Linked DNA regions of Homo sapiens. The protein of the gene in region 3 purifies or fractionates together with the protein of the main gene of each other region. This does not show direct contact. Each region holds a gene or a part of one and is shown on either strand. Other genes may lie near its edges.

Region 1 (3,518 bases), on a different chromosome or scaffold from region 3:
TCAAAAAAAAAAAAAAAGAAAGAAAAAAAAGGGGAAGTGACCATCTAGTTTCCAGCAGAAGTACCTGCTGTGCAGAGTATTTTATTTTCTTTGAACCAAGTTTTTAAACCTCAGAACTCCTGGGACTTTAGAAAGCAAGGAGGAGCATCCTTTCTTTTCCATTAGCAAGGAAACAGGAAGTGGAAGGAGGTAGCTGGACTGGCCCTCCGAATGCTGGGAATGCCCAGGCTGGACCTAGCTGCAGGGGGCCTCTGGCCTTTGTCAGCTCTCATGGTCTGATGATCCAGCAGTATTTGGACAGAGTGCTGTGCTGGATGGGGCAGTGGAAAGGAGCTGGGGTGGCATTCTTCTTCTGCCCCTTCCTGCATCTGTGACCTTTAACTTCTTTCAGTGTCCTCATCTGCGAAGTTGAGAATTAAAAATTCCTGCTCCAGGCTGGGTGCTGTGGCTCACACCTGTAATCCCAACATTTTGGGAGGTCAAAGCAGGAGGATCACTTGGGGCCAGGAATTCAAGACCAGCCTGGACAGCATAGCAAGACCTTGTCGCTACAAATAATTTTTAATAAATTAGCCAGGCATGGTGTTGTGTGCCTGTAGTCCTAGCTACTCAGAAGACTGAGGCTGGAGTATCGCTTGAGGCTAGGATTTGAAGGCAGCAATGTGCTGTGATCATGCCTGTGAATAGCCACTGCACTCCAGCCTGGGCAACCTAGGAAGATCCTCTCTCTTTAAAAAAAAAAAAAATTGGGGTCGGGCGTGGTGGCTCACACCTGTAATCCCAGCACTTTGGGAGGCTGAGGTGGATGGATCACCTGAGGTCAGGAGTTCAAGACCAGCCTGGTCAACATGGTGAAACCCCATCTTTACTAAAAATATAAAAATTAGCTGGGCATGTTGGCAGGCACCTGTAATTCCAGCTACTCAGGAGGCTGAGGCAGGAGGATCGCTTGAACCCGGGAGGCGGAGGTTGCAGTGAGCCAAGATTGCACCATTGCGCTCCAGCCTGAGCAACAAGAGCGAAACTTTGTCTCAAAAAAAAAAAAAAAAAAAAAAATCCCTGCTCTGTCTAAGACAATCAGTGGACTTGTTCTGGGGGTAAGGAAAGAATGTTAGAGAAAATGACAGACTCAAATATGGTACTAATATGTGATTCTCTTGTAAAGTCCTGATGAGCCTCAGTCTTAAGACAAGTTTCTGGCTCCTGGTTCCTATCTGCTTTTCTATTAGAAGCTTAACTGATTAAGGATCTCCTATGAAGTTTGTTGTTGAGACCAAAGGTATTTCTTCTTTAACTCGAGAATTGTATCAAATCAAGTAGGAGTAGAAGTGATAGCAAAATACAGGATTCCAGCCTTTGGGTTTGTGGTAGGAGAAAAGATACTAAAACAGAATATGCTCAACTCTCAGGTAGCCAAATACATTAGTTAACTGGGTGCAGAACATAAACACTGAATTTCATAAGGAAACCAGCAAGTGTGTAAGGCATTGGAATGTTAACGCTGACTCCAAAACCAGTCATTTGGGTGATAACAAGCTGCACAGAAATGGTAAGTAGCATTCGAAATCTTGAAGAAGTATACAGAAATGCTAATGGCATTGAGCTCTCCATCGGGAACAAGTAGCCCTTCCTTTAGGAAGCCCCCGTGAGTCGAGAGCAGCAGTCAGGCTCCTTTGAGGAGGGGGCACTGACAATGGCCCTTCAATGGGGGCTAACCCAAGGGGAGCCCTAGGCTCTTAACAGAACCTCTGCAGATGGCGTGGCCTCGATGAGCACATACCCTCCCCAGAGTTGCCTGTTCCTGGTCCAGCAATAAATAGACCACGTTATGCTGCTGCAGGGGTGTTGCGTTAAAGCAAGTCCTGCTCAGGCCTTAGATGTAGAAGAATTCTTTTTAAATAATGTTTTTTAGTAGCTTTATTGAGATAATTCACATACCATACATTTCACCCATTTGAAGTATACAGTTCATTGGTTTTTAGTGTATTCACAAAGTTGTGCAACTATGTGATAACTTTTTTTTTTTTTTGAGATGGAGTCTCGCTCAGTCACCCAGGCTGGAGTGCAGTGGTGCAATCTCGGCTCACTGCAAGCTCCGCCTCCTGGGTTCACGCCATTCTCCTGCCTCAGCCTCCCGAGTAGCTGGGACTACAGGTGCCCGCCACCACACCCGGCTAATTTTTTTGTATTTTTAGTAGAGATGGGGTTTCACCGTGTTAGCCAGGATGGTCTCGATCTCCTGACCTCATGATCCGCCTGTCTCGGCCTCCCATAGCGCTGGGATTACATGTGTGAGCCACCACGCCTGGCCGATAACTTTTTTTTTTTGAGACAGAGTCTCAGTCACCCAGGCTGGAGTGCAGTGGTGTGATCTCACCTTACCACAACCTCTGCCTCCCAAGTTCAAGCGATTCTCCTGCCTCAGCCTCCCGAGTAGCTGGGATTACAGGCGTGCGCCACCCTGCCCAACTAACTTTTATTTTTAGTAGAGACAGGGTTTCGCCATGTTGGCCAGACTGGTCTCGAACTCCTGACCTCAAATGTCCACCCTCCTTGGCCTCCCAAAGTGTTGGGATTACAGGCGTGAGCCAACGCACCCAGCCTGATAACTTTTAAAATTATAAGTCTAGTATATGGTTGCCGTAGATAATAGTAAAATGCAGAAAACTACAATGAATCTTTGAATAAATTTTGTACCTGTATTTGGGTTTTTTTTCTTTTCCATTTATGTTTGTTAAAATATCAATTTTTTATTTTTATTTTTTGTTTTTGAGGAAGAGTCTTGCTCTGTCACCCGGGCTGGAGTGCAGTTGTGTGATCTCAGCTCACTGCAACTTCCACCTCCCAGGTTCAAGCAATTCCCATGCCTCAGCCTCCCGAGTAGCTGGAATTACAGGCATGTGCCACCACACCTGGCTAATTTTTATATTTTTAGTAGAAATGGGGTTTTACCATGTTGGCCAGGCTGGTCTTGAACTCCTGACCTCAGATGAACCACCCACCTTGGCCTCCCAAAGTGCTGGGACTACAAGCATGAGCCACCGTGCCTGGCAAAAATATCAAATTTTTAATTTATTTTAATTAAACTATAATTTGGGTTTTAGTCATAGTAGTTGCCTTCCTCACGTATACAGTATGGAAAAGTATCTACTAAAATGGAGATAGGCCAGGCACAGTGGCTCATGCCTGTAATCCCAGCACTTTGGGAGGCTGAGGCAGCTGGATCGCCTGAGGTCAGGAGTTTGAGACCAGCTTGGACAACATGGTGAAACCCCATCTCTACTAAAAATACAAAAATTAGCTGGACATGGTGGCGGGCACCTGTAATCCCAGCTACTCAGGAGGCTGAGGCAAGAGAATCGCTTGAACCCAGGAGGCAGAGTTTGTGGTGAGTTCAGATCATGCCACTGGACTCCAACCTCGGCAACAGAGTGAGACTTCGTGTCAAAAAAAAAAAAAAAAGGAGATAAGTGTCAAAAAAAAAAAAAAGGAGCTAAATGGCCTCTTAGCTACCTCAC
Region 2 (3,518 bases), on a different chromosome or scaffold from region 3:
TGGGGCTGTCTGGTGATTCTGTAGATCAATTCTGTAGGCCCACTGTCCTGGTCAGTGGCAGACAGCTGCAGGGTGGTGATTTTCTTCACTGAGTTTTCATCCAAGACCAGTCCTTTATTGGTGGTGATGACTGGTGGGGATTTGTCTTCTGAAAATATCAGAAATAGTGATTTGAAATGGGATCTTCTCAGCCTCCTTTCTTTAATTCTAGGCCTGGTGCCAAGAAGTAAGGTCAGAGTCATCTCTAGGCCTGTGTGTTAGAGAGCACACCAAGGAGCCAGGGCTTCGTGCAATAAAGGGGGTATGATTTTCAGTTTCCACACCAGCTAGGTAAAGGGAAGGACTCGAGCCTCGAGGTGAACAAAGTGTAAACTATATAACCTCAGAACTGCTAAAATAGTTTTATATTAGAAAATCAAATGTCTCTTTACCTAGAATGCTGATGGAAAATGACTTGTCAATCAATCTGTTGCCTTCTCCATCAACCACATCAAATTTAAAAGCAAAGCTCCCTCCAGGTTCTCCTGTTCCATGACTATATTCTACGTGGCCTATAAAAAGGAAAAAAAATCAAGATTTGCTATTAGTGCTTTCTGCCCTTATTTCTGAAGCAAGAGGTGTGAATTCAATTGGTGTTCACACCAATGAATCAGTTCACACCTTCCTCGCTTTGACACTGCTTTTGACATTTTAATCTAAAGTTTTCATTTCCTCCTTTTCCTCTCCCACCATCTACTTTCTCATAACCAAAGACCTTCTCATAACAAAATCACCCCAAGTGACATTTCTCATGGTTAAGGCTGAGCCTTTTTGGAAGATCAGCTCAGCCTCTAAGGACACCTCATGAAAACGAGATCCACAAAACTGCCCATGTGTAAATGTGCACTGACCACACCCACATCACCTGGAGTGACCCTATTATATATTGGAATCACAAGGGCAAGAAGACACAGAGCTGCACCTCACATTCTCCCAGAACTCTTCACTTTTCATTGCCCAGTTCACGGAGCAACATGGGCTATAGCCAACCAACAAATAAACTCCACATAGAACTCAAAAGGATCTAAAAGGAGAAGTACAACAAAAATGTATTACATTTTTGTTAACCTACAGCATCACTTAAAAGCATCTTTCAATTTGGTTGTGTAAATATAACCAAATCTCTGGGAAGAGGGGGCTGGTCTTATCTTTTAAAAGTAGACACCGACATATGAAATAATTAAGGAATTACTTTCCTTTTGCCTCTTCCACTCCCCTTCACTAAAGCACAGCCAGTTCCAATGAGAATTCAGCTGTTGTCAATTTTAGGTGTTAGTGTGTGGGCGGGACACTTGTTTTTTATCCGCAGGGGTATATTTCCACTTCTAAACAGAATTGCACATAATCACAAGACTGTGGATTACGTTTTCCCCAATATATAACTTTTTTTCCCTTTTGTATCCCTGAAAGCACTGTACAGTAACTACGTAGCATTTAACATTTATGCCTTTACATTACATCAGCATTTCCTGATGGAGGGATGTGCCATGTAATTTCCCCTAGGCAGCTCCGATTTATGCCCTTCCATTTTGCTTAGTTCATTAACTTGTGCTCTTTGGGGAGCTGAAAAGAGATATAAATTGCTCACCTAAGGAAGGCATAATTTTCACCTTAATCCATCCCAACTCACTTCTTTTTTCCTTCTCTCTCTCTCATATATACTTTTTAGCATCACAGCAAGTCAAAATAACTTTTTCTCTCCAAAATAGCTGCAAATGCCACCAATGCTAAGTCAAAGCATGAACACATTTCAACCAAGAAAGATAGGGCTTTTTTAAAAACAAAAAGAAAAAAAAAATAAGAAAACAAGGAAGAGAACAAATGAAGCTCCTCAAAACAAAGAGTGCACAGTTTATTGCCATAGACTACCAGATATTTAATTCTCATTTTACTAGTGTAGGTGCAGTCCACGGAAGCCTGGTAGGCAGAAGAGAACTGGCTGACCTTGGCTAATGTCTGCCTGGGTGAAACTTCGGATGGGGCCTTTAATAGAAATTTGCTCCAGGTTGCCATGCTTCATCATCTGCAGGCGCCCTGCACCAGGATCTTCCTTCATGATGTACATAACCTGATGGTCATCTGAGTCAATATCTGTCACTTTCAAGTGCTGTTCTGTGATGCGTGCTACAGACCCTTGGAAGAGAACGGAAGAGAGTAGGTTATTCCCCAACATTTCCTTTGAACGGGATGTCAAATGATTTTAGGAGACTGGAGGCTAAATTATCACATATTCATTGGATCTAGGTACCAGGCACTTGCCCTTCTCAGTTTCCAGCTGAATAAATTATAATTTCCCTAGTGAAAGAGTACCGACATTTCAATTTACTAATTTTCCCTTGAGTCAACACCTAAGCACTTTTTTCCTTCTGATCCATTTTCATTCTCTCCTATGCTCCTCCGACTCAGTGACCTACCAGTTAATACCTAGATCTGTGGAATAACTCCCAGTTCTGTGACAAAAATAACTCCTAGATCTATGATGAAACCTGCTTGGATTTAGTTTACTTACTGTCTTGAGAATCACCAAATCAGAAAAATATAGCTTTACATAAACTCAAACATATCTTGTTGCCATGTCAGACAAAGTAGTGAAAATCAGCATCCTTCAGGACAGAGGATGTTAGGAGCAAGGAGATCTGAGCCTCTGGGCCCTGGACACTGCGCAGGTGTTGGGGATGAAGATAAGGCCCTGGCTAATGGCAAACTCCTCTTCTCAGGGTCTTGTCACTTGCTTTATTACCCAGCCGCTTTATCATGTTAAAAATAGTAAATCCCGGTAAAGTAGAGCCTAGTTATTCATGCATAATACATCCTGGTGTTTGGAGTGACATGTTCTTAGTGGGTAATACCAAGAACACAAGACCCTGACCATGCTTTACCCAGGCCGTTTCTCAGAGAGCAACCTTGAGGGATGAGGTAATGTCTTCCTCTCAGACAAAAATAAGACTTGCATTCTGCTGCTGTAACATGGAGAATTCCCCAAGCTCAGTATTCCCCTCTGTGATGCATCCTACTGCACACGAAAGTGTCTGTCTGGGCCCTCTACATCACCCCTATGGGACTGGGATGGCAGAGGGAGCCGATGCAAACCTGCTGATGCCCATGCTGCCTGCTGTGCTATAAGTAACAAGAGTGCCGTATTTCTGATGGAGGAATCTTGTATCTTCTACCAGCATCCATGAAACAGTAACAGGATAGTTTATTAGCTTATAAGTAGGATAAAGTCAAATCTCAGACTTGATATTTAAGACCTTTGAGAACTACCAAGTTTTCCAATACTATTATACCATACATTTTTCACTGCAAAATACACATGAAACTAAGAACAAACAAACAACAGAACTCTAGTAAGATGCAGACACCCTGGGCAAAAGGTCCACTTCTTAATTAAGTAACTTCCTACTGCAAACTGTTCAAGACTCACACTTGTCACAGGTCCTCCAATGTTGCTTAAACATGAGCAAAATTGTGAATGTTAA
Region 3 (4,464 bases):
TGGACCATACTGCTGATCTATGGACCGTACCAAATATAATGCCACTTATTCACCCACAATTCCAGAACCACCCTGAGAGAAGAAGGTCCCCATTTCAGGGATTGAAAAAAAACAGAGGCTCCAAGAAACCTATTTAACTAGCTTTCTAAGTGACTAAGCTGGGCCTGGACTCTGTCTCATGACTCCAGTGGTATGCTGGTAAATGTTTATACCAGCTCTTGGGGTGGGTGGGAGGATGGGGAGTAGAAAGGAGCCCTGATGTGTAGCAATTGCCTATTTCCTTTGTGTAAATACTCCCACCATGGCTGATGTCAAGCTGCAAGCATGTAGTCACTGAGCATGGAGTTGGTAAGAGATGTGCACCATCAGTTCTCCTGAGCCAGTACAAGCCATCTCCAGCACATCATTGCCTGCCACATTAAGGAAACCTTAGCTGCTGGCCTGAGGCTTGGCACCATCAGATGCTACTTTAACACATTCAGAAAGAACTTACTGCACCCAAGATTTGGCCCCTGACTTACCCAGCCCCTGAGGTTGCCTCCAATCCAGACCTGGGCTTGGTTGACTGTGCTAGTGCAGCACTGAATGCGATAGTTGAAGTTGAAGTCATGGATAGAGACAAGGTTGCCTCCGTAGCATCTGCTGCAGACATTCTGCAGACGGAAACAAAGTAGAGAATTCCCTCTCATTTATTTCAAGTTTCTGAGTCTCCAGGCAAGAGCCCGGCATCCCTTTTCAGGTTAAAAATAAACCTACTTGCCTCCCTTAATCCTATCTTTTGCTTCTTAATTAGCTGTCAGGACAATCCTACAGGAAATGATAATACTCATAATAATTATAACCACCGCTTATTGAGAGTTTATTACAGCCCAGTGACTATTCCAAACACTTTTCATGTATTATCTCATTTAATGCTCACCACAACTCTAAGAAGTTGGTGCTATATATCTTCGTTTTACAAATGAAGGTGCTAAAGCTTTGAAAGGCAAAGCAACTTGCCCAGGTAACACAGCTAATAAAAGGCAGAACCAGAATTTAACACAGGCGTTTCTAACACCAAAGCCTTTTGTTTAAATCGGTGGTTCTCCCCAGACCAACAATATCATCATCACCTGGGGATTTGTTGTAAATGCAAATTCTCAGGCTTCACCTCAGCCCTCCTAAATCAGAAGTCGTGCAGGTGAGGCCCAGAAAGCTGTGTTTTAACAACAACTCCAGGTGATTCTGATGCATGCGAGGCTTTGAGAACCACTAGCCTAAATGAATAGGGAACAGAAGACTGAATGTACTCTCTTTTCCCCCAGGTCCTCCGCAGTAGCCTCCCTACTACTTACCTGAGCTTCTGCAAAAGTTTTAGGAGTCCGCACCAATAGGTAGCGGCAGATCTTGCACCTTGGACTTCCCTGCACTTCAACAATGTCTTCTTCCCTGGGGCACTGGAAGTCCTTGTCTAAGGCAGCTGGGTCCGACTCCATGGCTTCCTCATCCTCAAAGTTGTCTTGACAGGCAGAAGCCTTGACCTCCTCTCCCTCTGCCTGAATCACCTCCTCCGTCAGAGCCAAGTCTCTCTCCTGCTCCTTTGAACTATCCAGATCCTGGCCTAGGTCTGCCTGTGTCTCTAGGCTCTCCAGATGGGGGGCATCATTCTCTGGGAAGAAGAGGTAACCTGCCATCAGGTCAAGAGCTTCCTAGTTCCAGCACCGTGGACAGCTCCAGCAACGTCGCTCGAGCTTTCCTAGGAATTCCACCTGAAGACAAGACTGGAGGATTTCCTTGGTGTTAGGTAAGGAGAGATCTCTCGGGTCACACCCACAAATGGACAAGAACCTGACTTCTGGCCGACACCACGAGTGTGTGTTTTGAAGGTGGGAGAAAGCACGTGTGAGAAGCCTGGGGCAGTCACCAGCCCTTCATCTTAACAGGTGGGTGGTTTTTCCTTCTGAAAGTTCAGGTTACAGTTTGCCGGGTGCGGTGGCTCACGCCTGTAATCCCAGCACTTTGGGAGGCCGGGGCGGGCGAATCACAAGGTTAGGAGTTTGAGACCAGCCTGGCAAATATGGTGAAACCCCATCTCTACTAAAAATACAAAGATTAGCCAGGCGTGGTGGCATGTGCCTGTAGTCCCAGCTACTCAGGAGGCTGAGGCAGAAGAATTGCTTGAACCCGGGAGGCGGAGTTTGTGGTGAGCCGAGATCGCGCCACTGCACTCCAGCCTGGGCAACAGAGCGAGACTCCGTCTCAAAACAAAACAAAAAACAAACAAAAAAAAAAACAAAAACAACAACAACAAAAAAAAATCAAACAAAAAAGAGAAAGTTCCAGGTTACAGTTCTGAGTCCAAGTGATATCTTACCGGAGATGAGCTGTATCAGCTAAAGAGGGAAGGCTGTGGTCCTGGCCTCATGAGTGCAAATAAAAGCGGGGGGAGGGGAGTGTAGGAAAAAGGAAAAAAGGGAAAGACGCATGAGGAGGGAAGGGAGAGACTTACCCAGATGAAGAGCAGAAACTGTTCCCAGCAGGAGAAAGGGCAGGAGCAAGAGGCATTGCATATCTACTGTCTTTTAGCGAGGACACTACTCCACCGTCCTTCTTGGGGCTGTCTTTGTGTGTCTAGTATAGCCCCTGGCACATAGTATAGAGGGAATATTTGTTTAATTGTTTGATTAAAGAGCAAACAAGATTGCTTTCTCCTCTTGCCATGAACAGACCCTGAGCTGGAGAGTCTAGAAAAGGAATGGTGGGAGGGATAACTCAGGTACCAAATTTCATTTGTCTTCCAGTCTCCGTTGCTGCTCTCCAGTATCACCCTTAGCCCAGACTCCTGCCCCTGCGGGGACAGGTCTGCTTAGCTATGATGTTCCTAAGGACAGGCCTCCTACGTGTTTGCCCTATGAGGTGCTGCTTCTTCCCAGGGCCTACACTGGTCCTGCCTGGGCAGCCAGAAAAGAACTCACCTTCCAAGAGTCTGAGACCTCCACTCTCAGTGCCTCTGGCTTCAGGGGCCAGAAGCAGCCTTTATACTGGGTTTTTGGGGAAGTGGGAAGAGGCCAGAATGATTGCTCCAGGACAGAGTGGGGGACAAAGGAGCTGATAATGAAGTTTGCTCAGTCTTCTCAACCCTGTGCCCTGCTCTCTGCTGGGACTGCAGGGACCTGCCTCCTGGGGCCTACTGCCTTGTTTGGGTACCCCACACCCTGGTTTGCTTCAGAAGGCCCTAGATGTTATGTCCATTGTCCAGGCATAATTATTATTTATGCCCCCTAAAATGCCCCAGTCTGAACAACACGCCTTAACTCCAGGAGTAGCCTCCTGCTGGTGGAATCCCAGAGAGTGAAGTGGAGATCCCAGGGAGCTGGTGGGAGACAATGGGGGGAAGAAACAAGAGGGGAAAGGGAGGTTCAGTGCTCCCAAGCTCTCACCCATCCTAGGGGCATAGTGTGCAACACACCCCTCACCCTCATCTCCGCATCATCTCCACCAGGTACCACCCCTACTTCACAGAGGCAAAATGTGAGATTCAGAGAAAGAGAGAAGGCAACTTGCCAAGGTTCCATGGGAAGTGGAAGAACTGGAATTTCTAAGTCTTTTTGACTCCAAAACCTTCTCTCTTTCTTTCCTCTCTCTCTTTTTTCTCTCCCTTCCTCTTTCTCATCTTTTTTTTTTTTCTTTTTGAGACGGAGTCTTGCTCTGTCGCCCAGGCTGGAGTGCAATGGCAAGATTTTGGCTCACTGCAAGCTCCACCTCCCGGGTTCAAGCGCTTCTCCTGCCTCAGCCTCCCAAGTAGCTGGCTAATTTTTTGTATTTTTAGTAGAGATGGGGTTTCACTATGCTGGCCAGGCTGGTCTTGAACTCCTGACCTCGTGATCCACCCACTTCGGCCTCCCAAAATGCTGGGATTACAGGCATGAGCCACTGTGCCTGTCCTCATCTTTTTTTTTTTTAAGAGACAAAATCTTGCTCTGTCACCCAGGCTGGAGTGCAGTGCTGCGATGATAGTTCACTGTAACCCTGAATTCCTGGGCTCAAGTAATCCTCCTGCCACAGCCTCCTGAGTCACAGGGATTACAGGCACAAGCTTTCTCATCTTTAATGTGTGAAAAATCTACATCCTTTCTTCTGTGCTGTGGATCTAGATCAAGGTTCCTCAACTTTGTGCTATTAATATGTGAGGTCAAATAACTCTTTATTGTGGAGGGGCTGTCCTGGGCGTTGTAGAAAGTTTAATGGTCCCTCTGGTCTCTACTCACCAGATGTCAGTAGCCCCTCTCCCCACCCCCGCAGATGATCAAAAATGTCTCCACATGTTTCCAAATGTCCTCTGGGGAGAAAAATGGCCCCAGTTGAGGATCTCTGATCTAGGATATGCCACCTTGCCCAACCTCAAGGCATAGCTTCAGGGCTGGCAAACAGGCAGCATGAAAAGCTCCATACAGAGTCTCTCCAGCACTCTGTAGATCATCCTCT
Region 4 (3,518 bases), on a different chromosome or scaffold from region 3:
CGGCCCCCGACCCCTGGCACCTGGGCAGTTGTTGTTTCTCTCGGTAGTGTCCGGCGAGATGACCTCCTGCTGCTGGGCCTGGATGGCCCCCAGGATTCCCCAGAGCAGGAGCACGGAGCAGGTGCCCTGGAGCATCTTGGCAGCACCTGTGGCCCTGAAGTCCTGCAACAGGGGTGGGGGTCGCTCAGACACCCCCAGTGCCTCTCCCCTGGCACCCTCCCCCATGGCAGGCGCACGCACAGCAGGTCAGCGGGATTGGGGGCACTGCCCTCAGTCTTCAAGGAAGCGGGGTCTGCGCCCAGCACACACCGTCACCAGCATCTGGACTGGGGGGCTTGCGCCCTCTTGCCCCACCCTGGGTGGGGTCACAGATGTTTAGTGGGTGCCTCTGGGCTCAGTTTTGGGTGGGATTTGGATGGTTGAGGCCCTTCCATGTCCTCCAGGGCTGGGTGGAGTGGGTAGCTGGGCGCGTCGGCATGGAAGGGAATGGAGCACCACTGTCTGGCGCCCCCCACTGCCTGGGGCTGCCCTGGAAACAGTGCAGAGGGGAGGGCGGGAGAGAGATCCCAGCTTCCCCAGACCGGCTCCCCTGCAGAGCTAGGCACTCTCTCTCCAGCCTGGCTCCATTCCCTTTAAACAGGACTTTGATAAGGAGGGAGGGAGGACTCTGTCAAGTGTAGGGACACAGCCGTCATTAGCCTGGCTTTCCTTTCTGTTGGGTGCCAGGACCCTGGGGCAAACAGATCCAGCCCTTGAACGTCCATCCTCCCTGATGCCCTGTGGCTTGGCCTAAGCTCCAGCTCCAGGAGGCCATCAGGACGGGCCTCACTGTGCTGCTGGCTCCGCAGAGTGGGGCTGGCAGCAGCCGGGCAGCTGGGCAGAAAGGGCACCGGGCCTGGTTCAGAGCGTGCAGTTCCAGGGGTAATGCAGGGATTGGAGTGCCGCCCTCTCCTCGGTGCAGATGGGAGGAGTGTCCAAGCACCGGGACTAGGGGAGGCGCTGCCAGGAGAGGGCCCTGAAGGGTTGCTGTGATTTTGCGGCGTCTGGAGTGGATGAGGTGACCCAGGCCAGACCTGCTCAGCCTGGGGCCCAGGGAGGAATGAAGTCCGTTCCCAAAGGTGCCAGCTCAGGCAGTTTGTGGGTGAGTTTCACAGCTTCAAGGACAAGCACTTCATGCTATTTAACTTGTTTTAGAACATAAAAAGATAAACTTTTTCCCAATTCATTTTTAAATGTTGCATAACCTGTGACCAAAGCTTGATAAAAAAAAAAGTCCCTAAAAGTAACTCTACAGATAAATATCACTATAAATATTACTGATGGCAGCGGCAGCCCATCTGGTGTGGCCGCTGCCATCACACTGGCTGCTCAGGGAGGGCCCATGGAAGAGGCAGACAGGCCCCCAACCCCGCAGACTGCCTCCCTGGGGGCCGCTGCCATGGGGCCGGGCCGGGTGGTGTGCTGGGTGAAGGGGAGCTCACGGCGGTGTTGCCCCTGTCTGGGATGCTGGCCCAGGTCTGGAGACCCTGCCCCAGGCTGCGAGAGGACATGGCCAGGTACCATGCTCCACGGAGCCAGCAGGAGCCGGGGATAAGTGGGATCCCTGCCCCTTGCAGTTTGGCGAGGTGAGAGTTCCCCAGGTACAACTGCCCAAGTCGTGGCTGTGGATCTGGGCCTTCTGCTCCATGGAGGAGGCAGGAGCCAGCCCCCACTCCTGGTGCAGTTTCAGCTGCCCCAACTGGGGCTGCTGACCCAGGCATCGCTGCACTCTTGGGGAGCCAGGGAAGGCCCCTCTTTCCCTTGTAGGCCTGGAGGTGCCTGTTCCCGCTGCCCAGCTTCTTCCCGCTCCCACCACCCACTCCAATCTCAGAGCAGAGTTGGGGCTGAGCCTGGGCACTGTCACAGCCTGGCCGGGTGGGTGCATGCTTGTGGCAGTGCTGACATGCCAGCCCCCTGCTGACTTGGCCCCCTCCAAACTGTGGGCACTGAGAAGTGCAGGAGGGGAGGCTTGGGGGGGTGCTGAGGGTGGCTGGGCACCGGTGCCCCTTGGTACCAGCAGCCTGGGCACCATGGATGGCTGCAGGAGGCAGATAGGCTCCTGGGCAGAAGAGGATGGGTCCCCAGTGAAGCCCCACCTTCAGGCTGGGGCAGGCCTGAAGCCTGGGGGCCGGGTTGCCCGTCCTACGGACCAGAGGGGAACTCAAGGTGCTTTCTTCTGGGCCTGCACATGGCTGCACATGGACCAATCAGCATGCACTTCCCCTCTCTGAGGCCTTTAAAAGCCCCAGGCTCAGTCAGAGCAGGGCAGAGCATGGCACGACCAGCTGCAGAGAGGAGGTGCTCTCTCTGCTGAGAGCTTCAGGACCTGAAGGGATGTCAGGACGACCAGCTGCAGAGAGGAGCTACCCTCTCCAGGGCTTTCTCTCTGCTGAGAGCTGAACACTAGTTGAGATGCCCTGTTTGCAGAGAGGAGACACGCTCTCGAGGGCCTCCTCTCTGCTAAGAGCTGCAGAGACAATGGGATGACCTGCCTGCAGAGAGGAGCCACCCACTCCAGGGCCTTCTCTCTGCTGAGAGCTGAACATTTGACAAGACAACCCGCCGACAAGACAACCCGCCTACAGAGAGGGGCTGCCCCCTGCGGGTCTCCTGTGAGCTCCCCTAACACTCAATAAAGCTTCTCTGTCTTGCACACCCTCCACTTGTCTGTGTACCTCATTCTTCCTGGACACAGGACAAGAACTTGGGCAAAGGCGCCACTGGCCATAGAGGTTTCAGGCCAGAAAAGTGACACCCTAAAAATCCCATAACATTATCACAAAAATTCTAGCCAATATTAAAAACTAAAATCCAATAGCATATTAAGGACCACTATACCAGAACTATAATATGAAGTTAAAGTACAGTGTTGCCACAAACACTAGGGAATACATTAATGTAAGTCACATTAACATAAAATGGGAAAAAATATGCAATTGCTTCAATAGATCCCTGAAACATCAATTTCTAACTAAGAAACAACAACAGCCAGACAAGGTAAAACCTAGTAAGAAATTTAGGAGTAGAATTAACTCTATAAAGGATATACATTTCAAATCAAGAGCTCACATCATATTTTACACAAAAAGCTAAAATAGTGGTTCTTATCTTTGTGGTCATGGACCCTTTTAAGAGTCTACACAATTTCACCTTACACAAATGCATAGATGCTCATATACAGAAATCATGTCCAGGAATTCAGGGATTCCATTCGTAGATCTAACCCTGGGTTAAAAAATCCTGCATTAGAAGAATGCTTACTACAGTACAAAAAAAATGGGGTGGGGGCAAACAGTGCAGATCTTACGCTACCATTCAGTGTTGTGTTGGAAGCCAATGCAATAAGACAGTAAAAATAAAAGTATAACTGTTGGAAAAGAAGAGACAAAACTGTCCTTATTAAAGATAGGATTGTCTACCCAGAAAATCATCTGAACAAAGTTTTTTTAAAAAAGAGAAAAAAAAATATATATATATAT

The links. The genes of interacting proteins can lie anywhere in the genome.
Region 1: the proteins of PRG3 (region 3) and GID4 purify together in Homo sapiens (affinity purification with mass spectrometry; 2 studies listed by BioGRID and IntAct, with this or other methods). This does not show direct contact.
Region 2: the proteins of PRG3 (region 3) and FRAS1 purify together in Homo sapiens (co-immunoprecipitation; 3 studies listed by BioGRID and IntAct, with this or other methods). This does not show direct contact.
Region 4: the proteins of PRG3 (region 3) and COL6A2 purify together in Homo sapiens (co-immunoprecipitation; 2 studies listed by BioGRID and IntAct, with this or other methods). This does not show direct contact.

Annotation. Positions count from the first base shown.
Region 1 is NC_000017.11:18,045,890-18,049,407, forward strand, and holds part of GID4 (glucose-induced degradation protein 4 homolog), read left to right. Parts: intron 1-3,518.
Region 2 is NC_000004.12:78,448,805-78,452,322, reverse strand, and holds part of FRAS1 (extracellular matrix organizing protein FRAS1 isoform 1 precursor), read right to left. Parts: intron 2,173-3,518; coding exon 1,984-2,172; intron 552-1,983; coding exon 432-551; intron 149-431; coding exon 1-148. UniProt on the Homo sapiens protein: Involved in extracellular matrix organization. Required for the regulation of epidermal-basement membrane adhesion responsible for proper organogenesis during embryonic development. Involved in brain organization and function.
Region 3 is NC_000011.10:57,378,160-57,382,623, forward strand, and holds the start of PRG3 (proteoglycan 3 precursor), read right to left. Parts: upstream 2,992-4,464; 5' UTR 2,955-2,991; intron 2,623-2,954; 5' UTR 2,550-2,622; coding exon 2,489-2,549; intron 1,649-2,488; coding exon 1,335-1,648; intron 654-1,334; coding exon 522-653; intron 1-521. UniProt on the Homo sapiens protein: Possesses similar cytotoxic and cytostimulatory activities to PRG2/MBP. In vitro, stimulates neutrophil superoxide production and IL8 release, and histamine and leukotriene C4 release from basophils.
Region 4 is NC_000021.9:46,108,094-46,111,611, reverse strand, and holds part of COL6A2 (collagen alpha-2(VI) chain isoform 2C2 precursor), read right to left. Parts: intron 2,698-3,518; exon of another isoform or gene 1,516-2,697; intron 1,142-1,515; exon of another isoform or gene 163-1,141; 5' UTR 136-162; coding exon 21-135; exon of another isoform or gene 1-20. UniProt on the Homo sapiens protein: Collagen VI acts as a cell-binding protein.